2 separate regions of the Homo sapiens genome follow, and region 1 is linked to region 2. Evidence: fine-mapped expression QTL. A gene starts in region 2. The other region holds a variant in brackets. All regions are shown on one strand. Distances are from middle to middle. Region 1 overlaps IGF2BP2 (insulin like growth factor 2 mRNA binding protein 2). Region 2 holds the start of IGF2BP2 (insulin like growth factor 2 mRNA binding protein 2).

Evidence for each region.
Region 1: its variant is fine-mapped to the expression of IGF2BP2 in whole blood (INTERVAL, PIP 0.92).

What each region holds. Positions count from the first base shown.
Region 1 is chr3:185,799,720-185,805,089 of GRCh38, reverse strand. All of the region lies in intron 2 of IGF2BP2 (insulin like growth factor 2 mRNA binding protein 2), which reads left to right. Among named protein-coding and RNA genes, the nearest start is that of IGF2BP2, 23 kb to the left of the region's middle. RefSeq lists enhancers at 1,981-2,482, 5,120-5,370. The variant A/G (reference allele first, on the strand shown) is at 2,914.
Region 2 is chr3:185,822,206-185,827,575 of GRCh38, reverse strand. IGF2BP2 (insulin like growth factor 2 mRNA binding protein 2) reads left to right here and starts at 2,534. Exons shown (of 16, transcript NM_006548.6): 1 at 2,534-2,793; 2 at 4,363-4,423. The coding sequence starts at 2,616. RefSeq lists silencers at 1,717-1,806, 2,217-2,486, 2,498-2,728 and an enhancer at 3,668-4,531.

The DNA.
Region 1 (5,370 bases), 22 kb after region 2:
AAGTGGAATGAAAATGGTTGAGCATTTTCCATCACATTGGTGGATGTTGTTCAGTTCGTGGCCTGAGGTTATGACTGTAATTTTTTTTTTTTTTTTTGAGACGGAGTCTTGCTCTGTCACCCAGGCTGGAGTGCAGTGGCGCCATCTTGGCTCACTGCAAGCTCCGCCTCCCTGGTTTGCGCCATTCTCCTGCCTCAGCCTCCCGAGTAGCTGGGACTACAGGCACCCGCCACCCACTCCCAGCTAATTTTTTTTTATATTTTTGGTAGAGACGGGGTTTCACTGTGTTAGCCAGGATGGTCTCGATGTCCTGACCTCATGATCCGCCCACCTCCGCCTCCCAAAGTGCTGGGATTACAGGCGTGAGCCACCGTGCCTGGCCTATGATTGTAATTAAATACATTGAGGCCTCATTGATTCAAGCTAGTTGCGGTAAAGGGAAGAGCAGTGATAATTAGTAGAATGCCTGAATGGGCAGATTTTAAAAAATTTATATTGTTTTCAATTAAATATTGTAACCTGAGGAAACTAACAAAATGTTACTAAAAAACAATCCTACTGGACCTTCTCATTGAATAGAAAAAATGACTTATATTCAGCTTATCAGTTATATATCAATACTTCTGAAATCTGTGTTTTTTTGTTTTTTTTTTGTTTGAGACAAAGTCTCGCTCTTGTCGCCTAGGCTGGAGTGCAGTGGCGCGATCTCAGCTCACTGCAACCTCTGCCTCCCGGGTTCAAGCAATTCTCCTGCCTCAGCCTCCCGAGTAGCTGGGATTACAGGCGTGCACCACCACACCTGGCTAATTTTTGTATTTTTTTTTTTTTTTTTTTGAGACGTAGTCTTGCTCTGTTGTCCAGGCTGGAGTACAATGGCGCCATCTCGGCTCACCGCAACCTCTGCCTCCTGGGTTCAAGTGATTCTCTGCCTCAGTCTCCCGAGTAGCTGGGATTACAGGCACATGCCACCACGCCTGGCTAATTTTTGTATTTTTAGTAGACACGGGGTTTCACCATCTCAGCCAGGCTGGTCTTGAGCTCCTGACCTCGTGATCCACCCGCCTCAGCCTCCCAAAGTGCTGGGATTATAGGCGTGAGCCGCTGCACCTGGCCAATTTTTGTACTTTTAGTAGAGATAGGGTTTCACCATGTTGGCCAGGCTGGTCTCAAACTCCTGACCTCAGGTGATCCACCCGCCTCGGCCTCCTAAAGTGCTGGGATTACAGGCATGAGCCACTGCGTCCAGCCTGAAATGTGTTTAAATAGCTTATTTCCCTTTTATGATCTTGTTTATATTGATTCCTTTGTTGAATGAGTACCCCTACCCCCCTTTAAAGGAAAGATTAATTTCAGTTCTGTCCTATTACAATTAGAATTAATAATATTTCACTATTCAGTGAACTACAATCTTGATTCATTTTAGGTTTCTGGTGCCATTGAGACACAAATATCTGGGTGCCACCCTATGCTAGAAGAAGTTAGGATGATGTCTTAATTACTTTCATGTGACAGAAAGTGGTTAAAAAATCCATCCATTCAAAAACGTTTAATTTAAATCATGGCAATACAGTATTCTTTAATCAACAGAAAGTGAAAATAACTTTGATCAGAATACTTACAATTAAAGAAAATGGAAATACTTCTTTTTTCAGTACTTTTATTTGGGAAATATTTACCAGGAAGAATCCAGTAACCAGTAATACTGTAATTTAGGGCTATTTTATTTTGTTTATTTTTTTGAGATGGAGTCTTGCTCTGCTGTCCAGACTGGAGTGCAGTAGCATGATCTCGGCTCACTGCAACCTCTGCCTCCCAGGTTCAAGTGATTATCCTGCCTCAGCCTCCTAAGTAGCTGGTATTACAGGCACCTGCCACCACACCCGGCTACTTTTTGTATTTTTATTAGAGACAGGGTTTCACCATGTTAGCTAGGCTGGTCTTGAACTCCTGACCTCAAGCAATCCACCTGCCTAGGCCTCAAAGTGCTGGGATTACAGGCGTGAGCCACCACGCCCAGCCTGATTTGGGGCTATTTTAATGTTTGATCACTTGACATTTCATTCAGCCCTCTAAAAATAAAATTGAGATACATTTTAGTTTAAAAAGAAGTGCTGTGGGTAACCTCTGAGATTGAGTCTAGCAAACTACATTTGTCAGAAATAGGATAACTGGCCGGGCGGGTGGCTTACCCCTGCTACATTAGCACTCCAAAGGCTACTCTCAGCACTTCTGCATTTATTTAAGTCTTTCTAACAACAGGAAAGTGTTTGTGGATGTTCTCATCTTGAGAAAAGCTTTTTCTTCTGAATATTTTCTCTCTCAAGGGTTTTTAGAGACCTAAACTTTCTTGATGGTGCTTTGGCTGGCTGGTGGGTGTGTAAGAGAAATTTTATACCTAGTTGGTAATGCTGCATTGGGTTTTGAAATTAACTGCCTACCAGCTCTCAGTTTCCTCAGCTGTATTAATTGCTGAATGCTAAATTATGTGTGAATAATTTAAAAAATGTTCTCAAGACCCAGTAATGAATTCAACAAATTATTTCAACTTGGAAGAGCATGACTTCAGCACCCACTACGATGCATTAGCCAGAGTGGAGCTAGAGTACAGGTTACAGAAGAGGCCAACCCTCTGTCCCTGCATTCATGAACTCGGCTCTGAGGAATCTTCTGTTATTTCCAAATTTGCAGAAAGAAACCTTGGGCAAACTGCTTCTTTTCCACCTTACCATTCCAACACCAGCCTTAGGTATTACCGTAATTAGTCAAGAACATGTCTTGGTTAGTCAAGAACACTTCATGTGTTAAGCTGGAATGAGGATGCTACTTAGCAAAGGACTAGTGATCAGAACCTCTCTACCTGTGTGCTCCTCTGGGATGCATTAGGTTTACCTTCCAGATTTCTTTTTTTTTTCT[A/G]ATTTTAAGTTCTGGGATACATGTGCAGAACATGCAGGTTTGTTACATAGGTATACATGTGCCATGGTGGTTTGCTGCACCTATCAACCCGTCATCTAGGTTTTAATCCCCACATGGATTAGGTATTTGTCTTAATGCTCTCCCTCCCCTTGCCCCCTACTGCTTGACAGGCCCTGGTGTGTGATGGTCCCCTCCCTGTGTCCACGTGTTCTCATTCAACTCCCACTTATGAGTGAGAACAGGTGGTGTTTGGTTTTCTGGTCCTGTGTTAGTTTGCCGAGAATGATGGCTTCCAGCTTCATCCATGTCCCTGCAAAGGATATGAACTCACTCTTTTTATGGCTACATAGTATTCCATGCTGTATGTGTGCCACATTTTCTTTATCCAGTCTATCATTGATGGGCATTTGGGTTGGTTCCAAGTCTTTGCTGTTGTAAATAGTGCTGCAGTAAACATAAGTGTGCATGTGTTTATAGTAGCATGATTTATAATCCTTTGGGTATACACTCAGTAATGGGATTGCTGGGTCAAATGGTATTTCTGGTTCTAGATCCTTGAGGCATTGCCACACTGTCTTCCACAATAGTTGAACTAATTTGCACTCCCAACAGCGTAAAAGTGTTCCTATTTCTCCACAGCCTCGCCAGCATCTGTTGTTTCCTGACTTTTTTTTTTTTTTTTTTTTTGAGATGGAGTTTTGCTCTTGTTGCCCAGGCTGGGGTGCAATGACGCCATCTCGGCTCACCACAACCTCCGCCTCCTGGGTTCAAGCAATTCTCCTGCCTCAGCCTCCTGAGTAGCTGGGATTACAGGCATGTGCCACCACGCCTGGCTAATTTTGTATTTTTAGTAGAGACGGGGTTTCTCCATGTTGGTTAGGCTGGTCTTGAACTCCTGACCTCAAGTGATCCACCTGCCTCGGCCTCCCAAAGTGCTGGGATTACTGGCGTGAGCCACCGTGCCCAGCTGTTTCCTGACTTTTTAATAATCGCTATTCTAACTGCCTTGATATGGTATCTCATTGTGGTTTTGATTTGCATTTCTTTAATGACCCGTGATGATGAGCTTTTTTTCATATGTTTGTTGGCTGCATGAATGTCTTCTTTTGAGAAGTGTCTGTTCATATCCTTCACCCACTCTTTTATGGAGTTGTTTTTTTTTCTTATAAGTTTGTTTAAGTTCCTTGTAGATTCTGGATATTAGACCTTTGTCAGGTGGTTAGATTGCAAAATTTTTCTCCCATTCTGTAGATTGCCTGTTCACTCTGATGATCGTTTCCTTTGCTGTGCAGAAGCTCTTTAATTAGATCCCATTTGTCAAATTTGGCTTTTGTTACGATTGCTTTTGGTGTTTTAGTCATGAAATCTTTGCACATGCCTATGTCCTACCTTCCAGATTTCTTTTATCATTTACTCCCAGGTATTCAGCAAGTACTTTCTTTCTTTCTTTCTTTCTTTTTTTTTGGCTCAGTCACCAAGTGGCAACTTCTCAGCTCACTGCAACCTCCGCCTCCTGGGTTCAAGTGATTCTCTGGCCTCAACCTCCTGAGTAGCTGGGATTATAGGCATGTGCCACTATGCCTGGCCAAGTTTTGTATTTTTGGTAAAGATGGGATTTCACCATATTGGCCAGGCTGGTCTTGAACTCCTGACCTCAAATGATCCTTGCCTCAGCCTTGCAAAGTGCAGGGATTACAGGTGTGAGCCACGACATCAGCAAGTACTTTTTTTTATTTTTATTATTGTATTTTATTATTATACTTCTAGGGTACATGTGCACAATGTGCAGGTTTGTTACATGGGTATACATGTGCCATATGTTGGTTTGCTGAACCCATCAACTTGTCATTTACATTAGGTGTTTCTCCTAATGCTATACCTCCCCCAGTCCCCCACTCTCCGACAGGCCCCGGTCTATGACGTTCCCCGCTTTGTGTCCAAGTGTTCTCATTGTTCATTTCCCACCTATGAGTGAGAACATGCAGTGTTTGGTTTTCTCTCCTAGTGATAGTTTACTGAGAGTGATGGTTTCCAGCTTCATCCATGTCCCTGCAAAGGACATGGACTCATTCTTTTTATGGTTGCATAGTATTCCATGGTGTATATGTGCCACATTTTCTTAATCCAGTCTATCATTGATGGACATTTGGGTTGGTTCCAAGTCTTTGCTATTGTGAATAGTGCCACAGTAAAGATACGTGTGCATGTGCCTTTATAGTAGCATGATTTATAATCCTTTGGGTATATACCCAGTAATGGGATTGCTGGGTCAAATGGCATTTCTAGTTCTAGATCCTTGAGGAATTGCTACACTGTCTTCCACAATGGTTGAACTAATTTACACTCCCACCAACAGTGTAAAAGTGTTCCTATTTCTCCACATCCTCTCCAGCATCTGTTGTTTCCTGACTTTTTTTTTTTTTTTGAGACGGAGTCTCGCTCTGTCTCCCAGGCTGG
Region 2 (5,370 bases):
TATCTAAAATGCTACACAACAACAACAACAACAACAAGTTTTTCTGACCTGTTGGAGAGGAATGAGGCCAACTATTCCTGCCACTCTCGTTTCTCCTTTACATGTACCTGTGAATAATAAGCAAATATGCTGTCCTATAATATAAAGGTGACCATATCAATTAGGAGCACATGTGTAAATAATCTAAAGATGGTTAGTTCAGTCTGCTGAGGTTTATGCATGCACAAGTCATGTTCATTTGTGATTCTCTGATACAATTTAGTAAAGAAGCATCCACACCTAGTTTATCTATTACTTTGGGGATTAGTAACCAAGTTCATTCTCAACTCCTGGAGCAGTAAAATCCGATTCTTTTTCTAGAGAGAGAAAAAAATATGTGAATACTTGAGACAAAAGCCAGAATTCAAATAACTGCAAATATCTAGGTGAAAATGGATTCATTACTTTCTCCTCTGGATACCTAATTAGTTAAGAAGATCTCCTTCTGTAGAATAAAGTATTTTAAAAGTTCATGAATTCCTGGGGGAAAGAAGAGAAACAGGCATTAAGTGTCTGACCACCCATGTCTCAACACGCTAGGCAGTTATCCTTCTTGTAGCCCTCACAACAGCCCTGCGAGGACTGGTTATTTTATCTCCTTATAGATGAAGAAACTTAGGCTCGAGAATGCTGGAACATCTCAGGGCACAAAGATGGGGGCAGAGAGAAGGTCTGAGTCCGGGGCAGATAGGCCTTCCACTCCAACAGTGTTTACCAGACCAGAATCACCTGGGAGTACTTGCGGAAAATACAAAATCCAGCAAGCCCCATTCTCTCCACGCCGCTCATCAACAGGAAAGCTTGGGAAAGACAATACTACTTCACGACCCAGTCAGGAGACCCGAACTTGTTCCATTCCTACATTCGTGACTTCTCCACCCAAGGACACTCCCCGCACCCGCGCCCCAACGCCTTCACAAAACCCAACATATCCGCGATCAAACCTTCAACTCTCCCAGTGGCCCCCAGAGGTCCAGAGCTTGGAATCTTCTTCTGCCTCCTCACCTCTGAATCCCGCCATTCTTCTCCCTCCTGTAGAATTTCATTTCCTGGCTGGGACCAGGCTCTAACCATCAGGCTTCCAGCCGGGCCCCGGAACTTGCAGCCCGCTCTAGCCTGTCTGGCTCCTGCCCGAGCCCCTCGGCTCCAGCCTGCTCTCATCCCAACCCTGCCTCTTCCGTCGGTCACGTTGTTTCCTCCGCTTGGAAGGACCTCTTTCCTCTCCGGGCCCTTCCCAGTGCTCGGGGAACTCCTACACAGCCTGCGCTCCTCCGCTTCCAGCCACCCTCGCCTCCCACCACCCTGGCTTTGGAGCTGAACCGGCCGCGCAGCCGGGCGGCGACCATCCGTCCCCCGGCCGCTGACCCCAGCGCTCCGGCCTCGCCGCAGTCCCTGGCCCCTCGGCGTTCGTTTCCCCACCCGCCACCTGGCTTTCGCCGCCGCCGCCCGGGAAGCCCTCGGCACTTCCCAGAATAGAGAGCAGCTGCCAACGTCAGGCTGCCGCCTGCCGCGGGGTTCCGGACACGCGGGGTCTGGGCGGAGAGGACGTGACTCCGCGCTGGCCTTCCGCCTTCCCTCCCCGGTCGGGAAACTGAGGCCCGGGACCGGGAACCACTTCCCCGCGAGCACGGTCCGCGAGGGCCCGGCCAACCCCGGTCCTAGGCGTCCCGACTCCCGCGCGCGATCCTTCGACCACACGCGCCGCTCGGTCACCTCAGAGAGCGTGGCGGGGAGCGGGTCTCAGAGCGAGCGCACGGCCCGGGAACGCGCAGGGCGCCAGCCCCGGCCAAGTCGCTGCGAAAGTTGTTGTCTCCCAGCCTGCCCTCGCCTCTCACCTCCGGGACACACCTTCCCGCTTGCCCTGGCAGCAGCGCACTCACATCCGGTCCACCTTGCGCACACCCCTCTCCGCGCTCACTCGCAGCCCCTCTCCCTCCCACGCCCGCGGCTCCCCGTCGCCCCCTCGCGCGCTCCCACCCGCGCCCGGGGCGCGCCTTCCCCGCCCCGCCGCTCGCCCGGCCTCGGCGCCGCGCCCGCCCGGGGTTCCGGCGCCCGGAGCCCCAGCCCGGGGCCGCGACCCGCTTCCGCCCGCCTGGCGCGGGGCCGGAGCCCGAGCAGCCACTGCCGAGCGCGGTGGGCGCGAGGCGAGGGGCGCAGCGGCGCGGGGCGGGGAGGGGGCGCTCGCTCGCTCCCTCTCGGCTGCGCACACGCCCGTACAAACTCTCACACAGACACACGCGGGGTGCGCTGCCGCCGCCCGCCGCTGCTCCTCCTCCCGCCACCGCCTTGAGAGGGAGAGAGAGGGAGGCAGAGAGAGCGCTTTGTCCGCGCGCCGCCGCCCGGCCCGGGACTCTGCCCCGAGGAGGCAGCCGCGCCGAGTCCCCGCCTCCGCCTCTGCCCCCGGGCGGGCCGGGCCGGCCGCGGTGGGGGGAGCCAGGCTGAGGGTGGGGGTGGGTGGCGGGCGGGCGGAGGGCGGGGAGGGGGGGCGGAGGAGGAGGAGAGACGAGGGCAGCGGAGGAGGCGAGGAGCGCCGGGTACCGGGCCGGGGGAGCCGCGGGCTCTCGGGGAAGAGACGGATGATGAACAAGCTTTACATCGGGAACCTGAGCCCCGCCGTCACCGCCGACGACCTCCGGCAGCTCTTTGGGGACAGGAAGCTGCCCCTGGCGGGACAGGTCCTGCTGAAGTCCGGCTACGCCTTCGTGGACTACCCCGACCAGAACTGGGCCATCCGCGCCATCGAGACCCTCTCGGGTGAGCACTCAGCGCGGCCCCCTCCCCCCGCCTCGCCCCGCTCAGGCCGGGACGGCGCCGGGAGGGAGGCCGAGTCCGGCGGGCGGCGCCCGGCGGCGGCTCCCGCGCCCGCACGCTCACTTCCACGCACCAGACCCTCAACTCTCGCCGCCGGCCCGCTCCTGGGACGGCCCGCTCCCCTCCCCCCACAGCTCTGGACTCTGCCCTCGCCCTCGGGGCCGCAGCCTTGGGGCGCCCCCCGTGCCGCTCCGAAGGCTCCCGAGGCTCGCCGGCTCCTTAGGGGCACCCCTCGTTCGCCTGGCGCCCCGGGCTGCTCTGAGCTTCCCCGCCCCCCACCCTTTGAGCGTCCCCTGTCTCACTTCTCCCCTGACCTTCCTGTCACCCCCTTTGTCAGGGTCCCCCCTTCCCCAAATCCAGCGTCTCTTCCTCCTCCCCCGGCCGGACCTTCTCTCTTCCAGTGCCTCGTGCCCAGAACCTCTCGCCCTCTGGCGTCTCCTGAGCCGCACTCTCCTTTCGAGCCCCCTCCCCACCTCGCCCCACGGCCCCCCACTTTTGGCACCCCCTCGGCGCCACCCTGGTGACCCCCTTCGAGATCTCGGGGCTCCCCCAGCCCCAGCCCTCGCACGACGGCACATCCCCTCGGTCCTTTCCCGAACCTCAGTCCCCTCTCGCTTGCTCTCTCAAGCGCTCCTATTTTTCTCTGAATTTTTTGTCCGATTTTATTGAGAAGAACTCGGGGCTGGGGGCTTTCCGCCGCCCGTCCCCCCGCCTCCCGCTCGGCCAGAAGCACCTTTTTACGAGGTGCCCTGTCTCAACTCGGTGGGGGCCAGGGTTGAGAACCGGGAAAGAGGCGACCGGGGGGCCCGCGAGCGCGCTGGAGCCCAGACAGGAGACGGAGAGCGACACACACACACACTCGCGCGCGCGCACTCCCCAACTCTCCCCAGCACACGCTCCGCTCCCAGCCGCGCGGGCCCCCGGGCCCCGGCCGGCGCCCCCCGAACCCCGGCCCGGCGGGAGCCCCTTCCCCACCGGCGTGTGGAGTGGGGGCGGGGCGGCGGCGAGGCCAAGGTGACACCCAGGAGCGGGCAGGGACAGGGCTGTCGCTGCGGCGGACTCCGGGGGGCTTCGGCTCGTTTTCTCGGGGCCACCGGGAGGAGAGGGCAGGGAGGGGAGCCCGGTGGAGCCTTCGGGCCCCGGATTAGCGGAATGGAGAGGTGGGGGCCGGGAGAGCAGCGGGGCCGCGCCAGCCCTGCAGCTTGAGTTTCAAATGAGCTCATCCTTTCAAATTGGCGCCGCTCTTTATTAAATTTGTTTTTCCGGTAATGCCACCCACGGCTATACCTGGGGTCCGACCCGGGCTCGCACCCTCCTCGCCTTGTCCCGAGACACGGGGCGCCCACCTTTCTTTCTACTGGGAACCAAGTTCGCCCAGCTCGATCCGGGTAGGAGACCCCTTGGGGGCGCCCGAAGGCGGAGCCCGAGCGTGGAGTTCCGTGCGTGCCCCCCCTAGACCCCCGCGGGCTTGATCTAAGCAAGGTTCTGAGTGCTTTAATTTCTGTTTTAAAGGTAAAGTGGAATTGCATGGGAAAATCATGGAAGTTGATTACTCAGTCTCTAAAAAGCTAAGGTAAATATACTTTGCTTAGTTTTTTTTTTGCGATTGGCCTTACGTATAAGTAAAAAACGTACACACAGCTTTAAAAAACGTGCTCTTGGTAGTTTTTAAAGGGGCTTTTGTTTGTTTTGTTAGTGGAGATACATAGTTTAGAAAGCTACTTTTTTTTTTTTTACTTTCATTATATAAGGTGTTTACTGTTCTTGGAAAATATCTGGTGCCTAATTGGGGGTCGGGGTGGCGAACACCAGCTATGTTCAGTTCGCTGGGACCCTGTAACTTGTTTATCAAAAATTGCCTCCCACCCCCACCTCCCGCCCCTACCCCCAGCAGAATAGCAGCAAATGCTTGTCAAGACTTCCTGTGAGATGTGAAGAGTAAATATTTACTATGTCAGCTAAATTGCTTAACTAAACTTAGCGATTAATTACTTTTCTCTTTTAGATAGTTTAATGTTGAATAGTAAAATAATTCAGTAAGGGGTCAATATTTTGCATAGCTTTCTAAAGAAGTGGGTTGTTTGGATTGGATGGCAGTTAAAAGCCGGACTTTTTCAGTCACTGAGACTACTGAGTATAGCTTCTGAGCATTTTGTTGTTGTTGCTTGTAAGAAATGTTTGCGGCTAAAATAAATACCCTTGTGAAATCTATAGTTATATTTAAGTGCACTGTTGTTAATGACGGAGTAACAAGTTTTGTGGAGGTTGGATTTCTCCACAGTGATTTGCTAACATGAGAAGAGAAGAGAAAACATCTTTGTTTAAAGTTTATTGTGGACTTTAAATTTGGGCCCTTTATTACTCATTCTAAATTTTTTTCTTCTGCTGTGTGTCGAAACTTAGTTTATATCCCATTCACATACATTTCTTCACCATTAGTCATTAAGTAGCTGGACTGGAGCTGTTCAATGAAGTTTTTGATGACCACCTTTACAGTTTATCAGTCAATAGTTTAACCAC